2 separate regions of the Homo sapiens genome follow, and region 1 is linked to region 2. Evidence: fine-mapped expression QTL. Tissue or cell type: whole blood. Region 2 holds a variant in brackets; the other region holds the start of a gene. All regions are shown on one strand. Distances are between the middles of the regions. Region 1 holds the start of TSPAN16-AS1 (TSPAN16 antisense RNA 1). Region 2 has its middle 6.7 kb from the start of TSPAN16.

Region 1 (5,371 bases), 32 kb before region 2:
AAAGGAAATGAAGCAACGTTCCCAGCCACCGCAGGCAGTTGTCGGCGACTTTCTGATGTAAGCACCTGGGCTCCGACTTGAGGGGGGCCCTTCAAGACCCAATGTCCATTTCCCAATCCTTGTCATCGGCAGGGCCCAGGGATGTGACAATTTTTGCTAATGGAGGAGTCACTTCTTTTTTTTTTTTTTTCTTTTTGAGATGGTCTGGCTCTGTCACCCAGGCTGGAGTGCAGTGGTGCAATCATAGCTCACCACAGCCTCAAACTAGGGGTCACTTCTAAGGGATGCTGGGGGTTGGGCGGAAGGGGTGAGGAGGTAGGATTGAGTAACTTGCTGTCACTGCTTGTACTTTGTAGACAGCCTGAGAGTGGCAGGACCTTATGTGAATGGGGGGGATGGACTGTGATCAGTGCCGGGGAGTCTCTGAAGCTGGGGTCCCCACCTCCAGGGGCTTCTGCTCAGAGGTTACGTGTGCAGTTTGAAGATGTACATCTTGACCTCCGGTTTAGAGGCACTTTCTGCCCATCAGATTCCAAACTCTAGGGGCGCAGCACCTTTTCTTTGCTCCCAAACACCAACCAACACCCCTTCACAGGACCAGCACTGTTAGGATGGCTAAGTGGATGTTTTATGTTCCCACGTCCCTGACTCTGTTTCAGAGGTTGTGTCTGCTCTCCCAGCCCCTGAAGCCAAAATGACTTCCTGCAGCTTTCATGAGCTCAGCCTCTTCCCTGGGGTATGTGTGAGGGGGAAAGCCTGGTTCAAGTTTAGATTTATTTCTAGGGAGCCCTGGTTTCTTCATACCAGAGGCTACCCTTAGAACTTTGGAGTGGGGTATCTTTTTTTCATTTGTTTTTTTGATACAGAGTCTCGCTCTATTGCCCAGGCTGGAGTGCGGTGGCACAATCTCAGCTTACTGCAACCTCCACCTCCAGGGTTCAAGCGATTCTCCTGCCTCAGCCTCCCGAGTAGCTGGCATTACAGGCACCTGCCACCACACCCGGCTAAATTTTGTATTTTTAGTAGAGAAGGGGTTTCACCATGTTGGTGAGGCTTGTCTCAAACTGACTTCAAGTGATCCACTTGCTTCGGCCTCCCAAAGTGCTGGGATTACAGGCGTGAGCCATCACGCCCAGCCGAGGGTATCTTTTATACCAACAAATTAGATGACTGAGGTGTAATGGACAAATCCTATGCACAAAGTGAGGGTATCTGAATATGTGGGCGGGAGTCAAAAATTTTTAGCTACTTTAACACTAAAGTCAAACTAAAGTAGCTTCAAAAAGACTTCTCAAGATGCAGTATGGCCTGCTGAGGTTTTTTTGTTTTTTTTTTTTTTAAGACAGAGAGTCGCTCGTCGCCCAGGCCGCAGTGCAGTAGCATGATCTCAGCTCACTGCAACCTCCACCTCCCGGGTTCAAGCGATTCTCCTGTCTCAGCCTCCTAAGTAGCTGGGACTACAGGCACCTGCCACCACGCCCATCTAAGTTTTGCATTTTTAGTAGCGACGGTTTCACCTTGTTGGCCAGGCTGGTTTTGTTGGCCAATTGTCTCTAAACTGCTGTCAAAAAAAGGAATGGATCAGATTGTCTTGAATAGGGCAGAGCTAACCTGTAATCACCTGTGTGATGAGAAACAGCTTTGACTGCATTTTACTCCTGACCTGGCCTAAGCTTTCTGTTTACATAAGATTTTTCAAGAATTCAACTTCAAGTAGCAGCCGAGAGAGCTGCCTCAGGATTCTCTCAAAAACTGGGAATAATATGGGAACATTTGTTTCTTCTAAAAATAAGGCAAATGTTACATTGAATGATTTGGGGGGTGAGGTTTAATTGGAAATGGTCTCTGGGGACTGAAAACTGATGTTTTTGCAGATTACCTCAGGGAAACGGAGGTTTGTTGAGTTTACAGACACATTAAACCAAAGGCCGTGGGAAAACCCCTCTCCAGCTCCAGGGGATTGGTCAGGACCACCCACTAACCAGTGCCTTCCTTCTTAACATTCACTTTTAGCAGCTTGTGTTTATTTTACATGGGCAGTTTTGATGGGAAATTGCCATGACCACAGGGGTTTGGAGTTCTGCTTTTTTTTTTTCTTCTTCTTTTTCGGGGGACTGGGGGACTCCTCCCAAGATCACATTTTAGCATCTTTCTCTCCTACTCCATTTAGAAAAATAAGTAACAGGTGAAATGTGGTCTCAGTGTTAACGGGATAATTCTGCTACCGGCTCCTCCCTGATGATTCTGAAATACACTACTGAACGAGCTCTGGCTGGTCCTTTCTATCCTGGATGTGGTTCTTCTGTGTAGCAATTCCTTGATGTCCAGTTTGGAAAGATGTACTCTTCTCAACAAGAAAAACTTAAATCCGTCGTGCCCAAATATAGTTGTGCTTTTATTTCCATTAGTGAAGTGCGTTTCTGGGAAAGGGGGTTTGATTTGCAACTAAGCAGATATCAGTCAAGGGCTCTTCAAGACACAGCAGAAACCTCACCGGGCCTCGGGCTGCCTCCCACTGGGTCCCATGGCCACCACCTTGACCTTGGAAAGCTCTGTTATATGGAAGGTAGGGAGGACACTATTTCCCTCAACTACTTCTAGTAAAAAGCTCAGTTCTCTCCCCAGCAGCAAGAGGGCACCTGTGAACACCTGAGTCACAGCGCATTCCTCCTCTGCTTAGAACATTCGATGGCTCCCACCTTACTTGCAGTAAATGCTGAGGTCCTTCCTGTGGCCCCCGGGGCCCTGCATGATCTGATCCATCCCTTCCCTACCCTCATCTCTCCACTGGCCTCCCCACACTTGCTCCCCTCCGGCCACTCTGGCCTACTTGCTGCTATCTGAACATACCAGGCCCCTGCCCCAAGGCCTTTGCCCAGAATGTTCCCCCTGCCTCTGCCTGGATGGCCCTTACCCAAGGTAGTCACAGTTGATATGGTTTGGCTTTGTGTCCCCACCCAAATCTCATCTGGAATTGTAATCCCCATAATCCTCACGTGTCAAGGGAGAGACCAGGTGGAGGTCATTGAATCCTGGGGGCGGTTCCCCCATGCTGTTCTCCTGATAGCAAGTGAGTTCTCACGAGATCTGATGGTTTTATAAGGGATTCTTCCGCCTTCTCTCGGCTCTTCTCCTTCCTGCCACCTTGTGAAGAAGGTATCTGGCTTCCCCTTTGCCTTCTGTTATAATTGTAAATTTCCTGAGGCCTCCCCAGCCATGTTGAACTGTGAGTAAATTAAACCTCTTATGTTTTTTTGGGTATTTTTTTGTTTTTTTTTTTTTGAGACTCAGTCCTACTCTGCCACCCAGCTGGAGTGCAGTGGTGCCATCTTGGCTCACTGCAACCTCCGCCTCCCAGGTTCAAGCAATTCTCCTGCCTCAGCCTCCCGAGTAGCTGGGATTACAGGCACACTCCACTACGCCTGGCTAATTTTTGTGTTTTTAGTAGAGACGGGGTTTCACCACGTTGGCCAGGCTGGTCTCGAACGCCTGACCTCATGATCTGCCCACCTTGGCCTCCCAAAATGCTGGGATTACAGGCGTGAACCACCGTACACGGGCAAACCTCTTTCCTTTATAAATTACCCAGTCTTGGGCAGTTCTTTCCAGCAGTAGGAAAACAGACTAATACAACAAAGCTCCCCTAACTGAACTTCCTCTTTTGGGCTACTGTGCAAATCTCACTTTCTCACTGCCCCCTCCCCTGATTTAGTACTGCAATCTCCCTCCCCAGCATTTCTTTTTTCTTTTTCTTTTCTTTTCTTTTTTTTTTTTTTGGAGACAAGGTCTTGCCGTATGGCCCTGGCTGGAGTGCAGTGGCACAATCATGGCTCACTGCAGCCTCGAACTCCTGGACTCAAAGGATCCTCCCACTTCAGCCTCCTGAGTTTCTGGAACTACAAGCAAGCACCACCACATCCAGCTGATTGAGTGATTGAGAGATGGGATCTTGCTATGTTGCCCAGGCTGGTCTTGAACTCCCAGCTTCCAGCCATGCTCCCGCCTTGGCCTCCCAAAGTGCTAGGATTGGCCAGGTGTGGTGGCTCATGCCTGTCATTCCAGCACTTTGGGAGGCTGAGGCAGGAGGATCACTTGAGGTCAGGAGTTTGAGATCAGCCTGGCCAACATGACAAAACCCCATCTCTACTAAAAATATAACAAATAGCTGGGCCTGGTGGCACATGCCTGTAATCCCAGCTACTCGGGAGGCTGAGGCGGGAGAATCGCTTGAACAAGTGGGGCAGAAGTTGGGGTGTGCCGAGATCGTGCCATTGCACTCCAGCCTGGATGACAAGAGAGAAACTCCGTCTCAAAAAAAAAAAAAAAAGTCCTGGCCGGGCGTAGTGGCTCAGGCCTGTAATCCCAGCACCTTGGGAGGCGGAGGCGGGCAGGTCACGAGGTCAAGAGATCGAGATCATCCTGGCTAACACGGTAAGACCCCGTCTCCACTGAAAATACAACAAAAAAATTAGCCGGGCGTGGTGGCGGGCGCCTGTAGTCCCAGCTACGCGGGAGGCTGAGGCAGGAGAATGGCGTGAACCCGGGAGGTGGAGCTTGCAGTGAGCCAAGATCGCGTCACTGCATTCCAGCCTGGGCGACAGAGCGAGACTCCGTCTCAAAAAACAAAACAAAACAAAACAAAATACAACCTAAATGACAGGTTTGGAGAGCTTCTGAGTTGATGAACACATGGAGGTGCTGGAAGGGTGGTGCCCCCCTCCCCAAGAAAGGGTGTGGAAGTGCTGCACACCATCCCCCACACATTGCCCTCTTTATCACTTCCATTTGGCTGTTCCTGAGTTGTCTCCTTTTTTTGTTTTTTTGTTTTGTTTTGTTTTGTTTTGTTTGTTTTGAGACAGAGTCTCGCTCTGTCGCCCAGGCTGGAGTGCAGTGGCGCGATCTCGGCTCACTGCAAGCTCCGCCTCCCGGTTCAAGCGATTCTTCTGCCTCAGCCTCCGGAGTAGCTGGGATTACAGGGCGTGTGCCACCACGCCCGGCTAACTTTTGCATTTTTAGTAGAGACGGGGTTTCATCATATAGGCCAGGCTGGTCTCAGACTCCTTACCTCGTGATCCGCCCGCCTTGGCCTCCCAGAGTGCTGGGATTACAGGCATAAGCCACTGCGCCTGGCCTGAGTTGTCTCCTTTATAATAAATCAGGAGTAGTAAGTAAAACACTTGCCTGAGATCCGTGAGTCATTCTAGCAAATTATCAAACCTGAAAGGGAGGGGGCTTGTGAGAACCCCCCCTGACTTTGTAGCCACATTGGACAGAAATATGGGTAACCTGGGAACTCAATACTTGATACCTCTGAAGTGAGGGAAGCTCAGTTTTGTGGGACTCAGCCCTTAAATCTGTGGGGTCACACACC
Region 2 (5,371 bases):
TCCCCATGTTCACATTCTGCCTTAGGGTTAACACTTTGTGCTCTGTATGGTGGGTTGGGAGGCACTGAGGAGTGATCAGAAGACCCCTGTCAGGCCAGGCACAGTGGTTCACACCTGTAATCCCAGCACTTTGGGAGGCCGAGGCGGGTGGATCACCTGAGGTCAGGAGTTCAAGACCAGCCTTGGCCAACATGGGGAAGCCCCGTCTCTACTAAAACTACAAAATTAGCTGGATGCGGTTAATTACAGGTGGGCACCTGTAATCCCAGCTACTCAGGAGGCTGAGGCAGAAGAATTGCTTGAGCTGGGGAGATGGAGGTTGCAGTGAGCCGAGACCGCACCACTGCACTCCAGCCTGGGCGACAAAGCGAGACTCTGTCTCAAAAAAATAAAATAAAATAAGAAGACCCCTGTCCTACAGGGACACTCACTGCTTTCCCAGTTCCTCTCTCTTGCTACATAAAGAAAGATCTGCAATTTCTACCCCTTCAGCTACCTTAGCTTCTGGCTGGAAAAGAGGGAAGTGAAATTAAGGAGAACCAGGAGATGGGTTTTTGTTTGTTTGTTTGTTTTTTGAGACAGGGTCTCGCTTTGTCTCCCAGGCTGGAAGTACAGTAGTGTGATCTCAGCTCCCTGCAACCTCACCCTCCTGGGCTCAAGCGATCCTCTCGCTTTGGCCTTTAGAGTAGCTGGGACCAATGGCACGTGCCACCACGCCCGGCTAATTTTTTTATTTTTTGTGGAGACAGGGGTCTCGCTATGTTTCCCAGATTGGTCTCGAACTCCTGGGCTCAAGCAATCCTCCTGACTTAGCCTCTCAAAGCGCTGGGATTACAGGTATGAGCCACCACACCCAGCCAAGATCCTTGATAATATTAAAAATATTTAGTATATAAGGTATACCCAGGCAGTGATGAGAAGGGAGGGTTTCAGGGGTATCAACCTTGAAGGGTTAGGAGGACTGGAGGGTCCTGATGAGAGTTCAGGAAGCAGCGAGTGGCCCCAGACCAGTGCATGCAGGTGACACATCTCGAGGGGGCTTCTGTTCTTGTTAGCATGGGGGATCGGGTTCTAATTCCCTCTGTTGTCTGGGCAGCTGGTCCCAGGGTGGCCAAGACTGTTCCCATCCCATATTCCTCAAGTATCTCACTTAAACACATTGAAAAGGTTGGCCAGGTGCAGTGGCTCACGCTTGTAATCTCAGCACTTTGGGAGGCCAAGGCAGGCGGATCACTTGAGGTCAGGAGTTTGACACCAGCCTGGCCAACATGGTGAAACCCCGTCTCTACCAAAAATGCAAAAATTAGCCGGGCATGGTGGTGCATGCCTGTAATCTCAGCTACTCAGGAGGCTGAGGCAGGAGAATCGCTTGAACCCGGGAGGCGGAGGTTGCGTTGAGCCGAGGTCTTGCCACTGCACACGCCAGCCTCGGCAACACAGTGAGACTCTGTCTCAAAAAAAAAAAAAAAAGACCTCATAAATAGCTTTTGGAGATTTTATTACAGGCGGACCTGTAACAACCGCAAATGGACTTTTAAAACCTTGTGGGGAATGTTTCTCCTTCTAGGAATTCCTACTACAGATTTATTCAAATGCACATAGGCCAAGAGCTGGCAGATTTTTCTGGAAAGAGCCAGAAAGTAAATATTTTCAGCTTTGCGGACCATACCGTCTCTGTTGGGACTCTGCTATTGCAGCCATAGAAAATATGTAAATGGACAATATGTAAATATATGTAAATGAACAAGTGTGACTCTGTCAAAATAAAATGTTATTTATAATATGAGATGGTTTTGTTATTTACAAAAATGGGTGGCAGAATGTAGTTTTGCTAATGCCTGCTCTTAAGCCTCGCTTGACTTGTGAATGATTGGAAACAACAACTTAAGTGCCCTTTGTTTTTGTTTTTTTGTTTTTTTTTTAGACGAAGTCTCACTCTGTTGCCCAGGCCGAGGGCAGTGGTGCAATCTCAGCTCATTGCAACCTTCATTTCCTGGGTTCAAGCAATTCTCCTGCCTCGGCCTCCCCAGTAGCTGGGACTACAGGCATGCCCCACTATGCCCAGCTAATTTTTGTATTTTTGGTAGAGACAGGGTTTCACCATGTTGGCCAGACTGGTCTCGATCTCCTGACCTCAGGTGATCCACCTGCCTCGGCCTCCCAAAGTGCTGGGATTACAGCCGTGAGCCATCGTGCCCGGCCTTAAATGCCCTTTGAAAGTATTAGTAGCTGATTAAGTATAAGATTGTCCAACTAGAGGAAAAGATGCTCAAAAGCTGAGAAAATGAATGCAGAAATCTTTGTTGCTTTTTTGCAGACTGGATCTCACTTTGTTGCTCAGGCTGGAGTGCAGTGATGTGATCATAGTTCATTGTAGCTTCAAACTCCAG[G/A]GCTCAAGTGATCCTCCCGCCTCAGCCTCCTGAGTAGCTGAGACTACAGGCACACACTACCGCACCTGCCTTTTTTTTTTTTTTTTCCATTTTTGGTAGAGACAGGCTCTAGCAATGGTCTTGAACTCCTGGACTCAAGTGATCTGGCTGCCTCAGCCTCCCAAAATCCTGGGATTACAGGCATGAGCCACCACACCTGCTCAAATTCTTAACTAAAAGAATTGACAACGGGAGCCAGGCGCGGTGGCTCATGCCTATAATCCCAGCACTTTGGGAGGCCAAGGCTGGCAGATCACTTGAGGTCAGGAGTTTGGAGCCTGGCCAACATGGTGAAACCCCGTCTCTACTAAAAATACAAAAATTAGCTGTATGTGGTGGCAGGCGCCTGTAATCCTGGCTACTTGGGAGGCTGAGGCAGGAGAATCATGTGAACCCGGGAGGCGGAGTTTGCAGTGAGCCGAGATCACGCCACTGCACTCCAGCCTGGGCGACAGAGCGAACTCTGTCTCGAAAAAAAAAAAAGACAAATATTGCATGATTCCACTCATTTGAGGTCCCTAGAGTCATCAGATTCATAAAGACAGAAAACAGAATGGTGGGTACCAGGGAATGGAGAGGAGCGTGGGGAGTGAGTGTTTCATGGGGATAGAGTTTCAGTTTGGAAAGATGAGAAAGTTCTGGAGACGGATGGTGGTGATGGCTGCACAGCGATGTGAATGTGCTTAATGCTGCTGAACTGTACTTTTCTTTTTTTTTTTGAGACAGAGTCTTGCTCTGTTGCCAAGGCTGGAGTGCAGTGGCGTGATCTTGCGATCTCAGCTCCCTGCAACCTCCATCTACTGGGTTCGAGCAACTCTCCTGCCTCAGCCTCCTGAGTACCTGGGACTACAGGAGCGTGCCACCATGCCCGGCTAATTTTTGTAATTTTAGTAGAGACGGGGTTTCACCATGTTGCCCAGGCTGGTCTCAAACTCCCGACCTCAAGTGATCCGCCCACCTCAGCCTCCTAAAGTGCTGGGATTACAGGTGTGAGCCACCACACCCGGCCTGAACTGTACACTTAAAATGGTTAAAATGACAAAATTTTAAGTTATATATATTTTGCCACAGTAGAAAAGAAATAAATGTTGTAAAAGGAACAGGACTACAAGGCCTCCTGGTGGGAATAGAGGGAAATGACTCGGCCCGGTACCTGCTAATGTTCTCGCAGTTCCTGTAGAACTTCATGTCCAGCTCTGGTTACCGTGAGCACCACAGTGGGTTAAGTCATGTCACCACAAAATTCATATCCATCTGGAGCCTCAGATGAGACCCTATCTGAAAACAGGGTCTTTGCAGATGTCATTGGTTAAACATCTTGAGATGAAGTCAGCCTAGATTTAGGTCAGGTCCTAAATCCAATATCTGGTCAATATCTGGTGTCTTTATAAGACATAGGAGAGGGGTTAGGGGTGGTGGCTCATGCCTGTAATCCCAGCACTTTGGGAGGGCAAGACCAGAGGAGACAGGAGGCTTGAGGCCAGGAGTTCAAGACCAGCCCGGGCAACATATCGAGACCCTGTCTCTAAAAAAATAAAAATTAGCCAGGTATGGTGGCGTGTATCTGTAGTACTAGCCACTCTAGAGGCAGAGTTGGGAGGATGTCTTGAGCCTGGGAAGTCGAGGCTGCAGTGAGGTATGATGGTGCCACTGCATTCCATCCTGGGCAACAGAGCAAGACCTTGTCTCAAAAATAAATAAATAAGGTTGTTGGTTAAAAAAAAAAAAAAAAAAAAAAAGACCAGGCTCTGTGGCTCACACCTGTAATTCCAGCACTTTGGGAGGCCAAGGCGGGTGGATCACAAGATTAGGAGATGGAGACCATCCTGGCTAACACGGTGAAACCCCGTCTCTACTAAAAATACAAAAAAAATTAGCCAGGCATGGTGGCGGGCGCCTGTAGTCCCAGCTACTCGGGAAGCTGAGGCAGGAGAATGGCGTGAACCCAGGAGGCAGAACTTGCAGTGAGCCGAGATCGCGCCACTGCACTCCAGCCTGGGTGACAGAGCAAGACTCTATCTCAAAAAAAAAAAAAAAGGAGGCCAGGTGTGGTGGCTCATGCCTGTAATACCCAGTGCTTTGGGAGAGTGAGGTGGGTGGATTTTGAGGCAAGGAGTTTGAGGTCAGCCTGGCTAACATGGCAAAACCCTCTCTCTATTAAAAATAGAAAAATTAGCTGGTTGTGGTGGTGGACGCCTGTACTCCAGGCTACTAGGGAGGCTGAGGCAGGAGAATCACTTGAACCCAGGAGGCAGAGGTTGCAGTGAGCTGAGATTACACCATTGCACTCCAGCCTGGGTAATAGAGTGAGACTCTGTCTCATAAAAAAATGAGAGAGAGAAAGAGAGACAGGAGAGGAACATTTGGACACAGACAGAGGGGAGAAGGCCACAAGATGATGGAAGAGGCAGTGATTGGAGTGACGTGGCCACAATCCAGCGACCACCAGGGGCCACCAGAAGTTGGAAGAGGCAAGGAAGGAACCTTCCCCAGAGCTTTTGGGGGCAGCACGGCTCTGTTGACACCTTGATTTCAGACTTCTGGCATCCAGAACAGTGAAAGAATAAATTTTAGGGGGCTGGGCGTGGTGGCTGACGCCTGTAATTCCAACACTTTGGGAGGCCAAGGCGGGCGGAGCACCTGAGGTCGGGAGTTTGAGACCAGCCTGACCAACATGGCAAAACCCTGTCTCTACTAAAAATACAAAAATTAGCCGGGCATGGTGTCACATGCCTATAATCCCAGCTACTCAGAAGGCTGAGGCAGAAGAATCGCTTGAGCCTGGGAGGCAGTGGTTGCAGTGACCTAAGATCGCCCCACTGCTCTCCAGCCTGGGCGACAGAGGGAGACTGTGTCTCAAAAAATAAAAGAATAAATTCTTGTTGTTTTAAACCAGCAAGCTGGTGATGATTTGTTATGGCAGCTCCCAAAAATCTAACACA

Evidence for each region.
Region 1: it holds the start of TSPAN16-AS1, and the variant in region 2 is fine-mapped to the expression of TSPAN16-AS1 in whole blood (TOPMed, PIP 0.99).

The regions. Positions count from the first base shown.
Region 1 is chr19:11,319,079-11,324,449 of GRCh38, reverse strand. It overlaps TSPAN16-AS1 (TSPAN16 antisense RNA 1), which reads left to right and starts at 3,125. Exons shown (of 3, transcript NR_187778.1): 1 at 3,125-3,226. RAB3D (RAB3D, member RAS oncogene family) reads left to right here. Exons shown (of 5, transcript NM_004283.4): 5 at 1-2,382. It also overlaps a transcript of TSPAN16 not described here. RefSeq lists an enhancer at 1-202.
Region 2 is chr19:11,286,729-11,292,099 of GRCh38, reverse strand. No RefSeq gene overlaps it. Among named protein-coding and RNA genes, the nearest start is that of TSPAN16, 6.7 kb to the left of the region's middle. The variant G/A (reference allele first, on the strand shown) is at 2,391.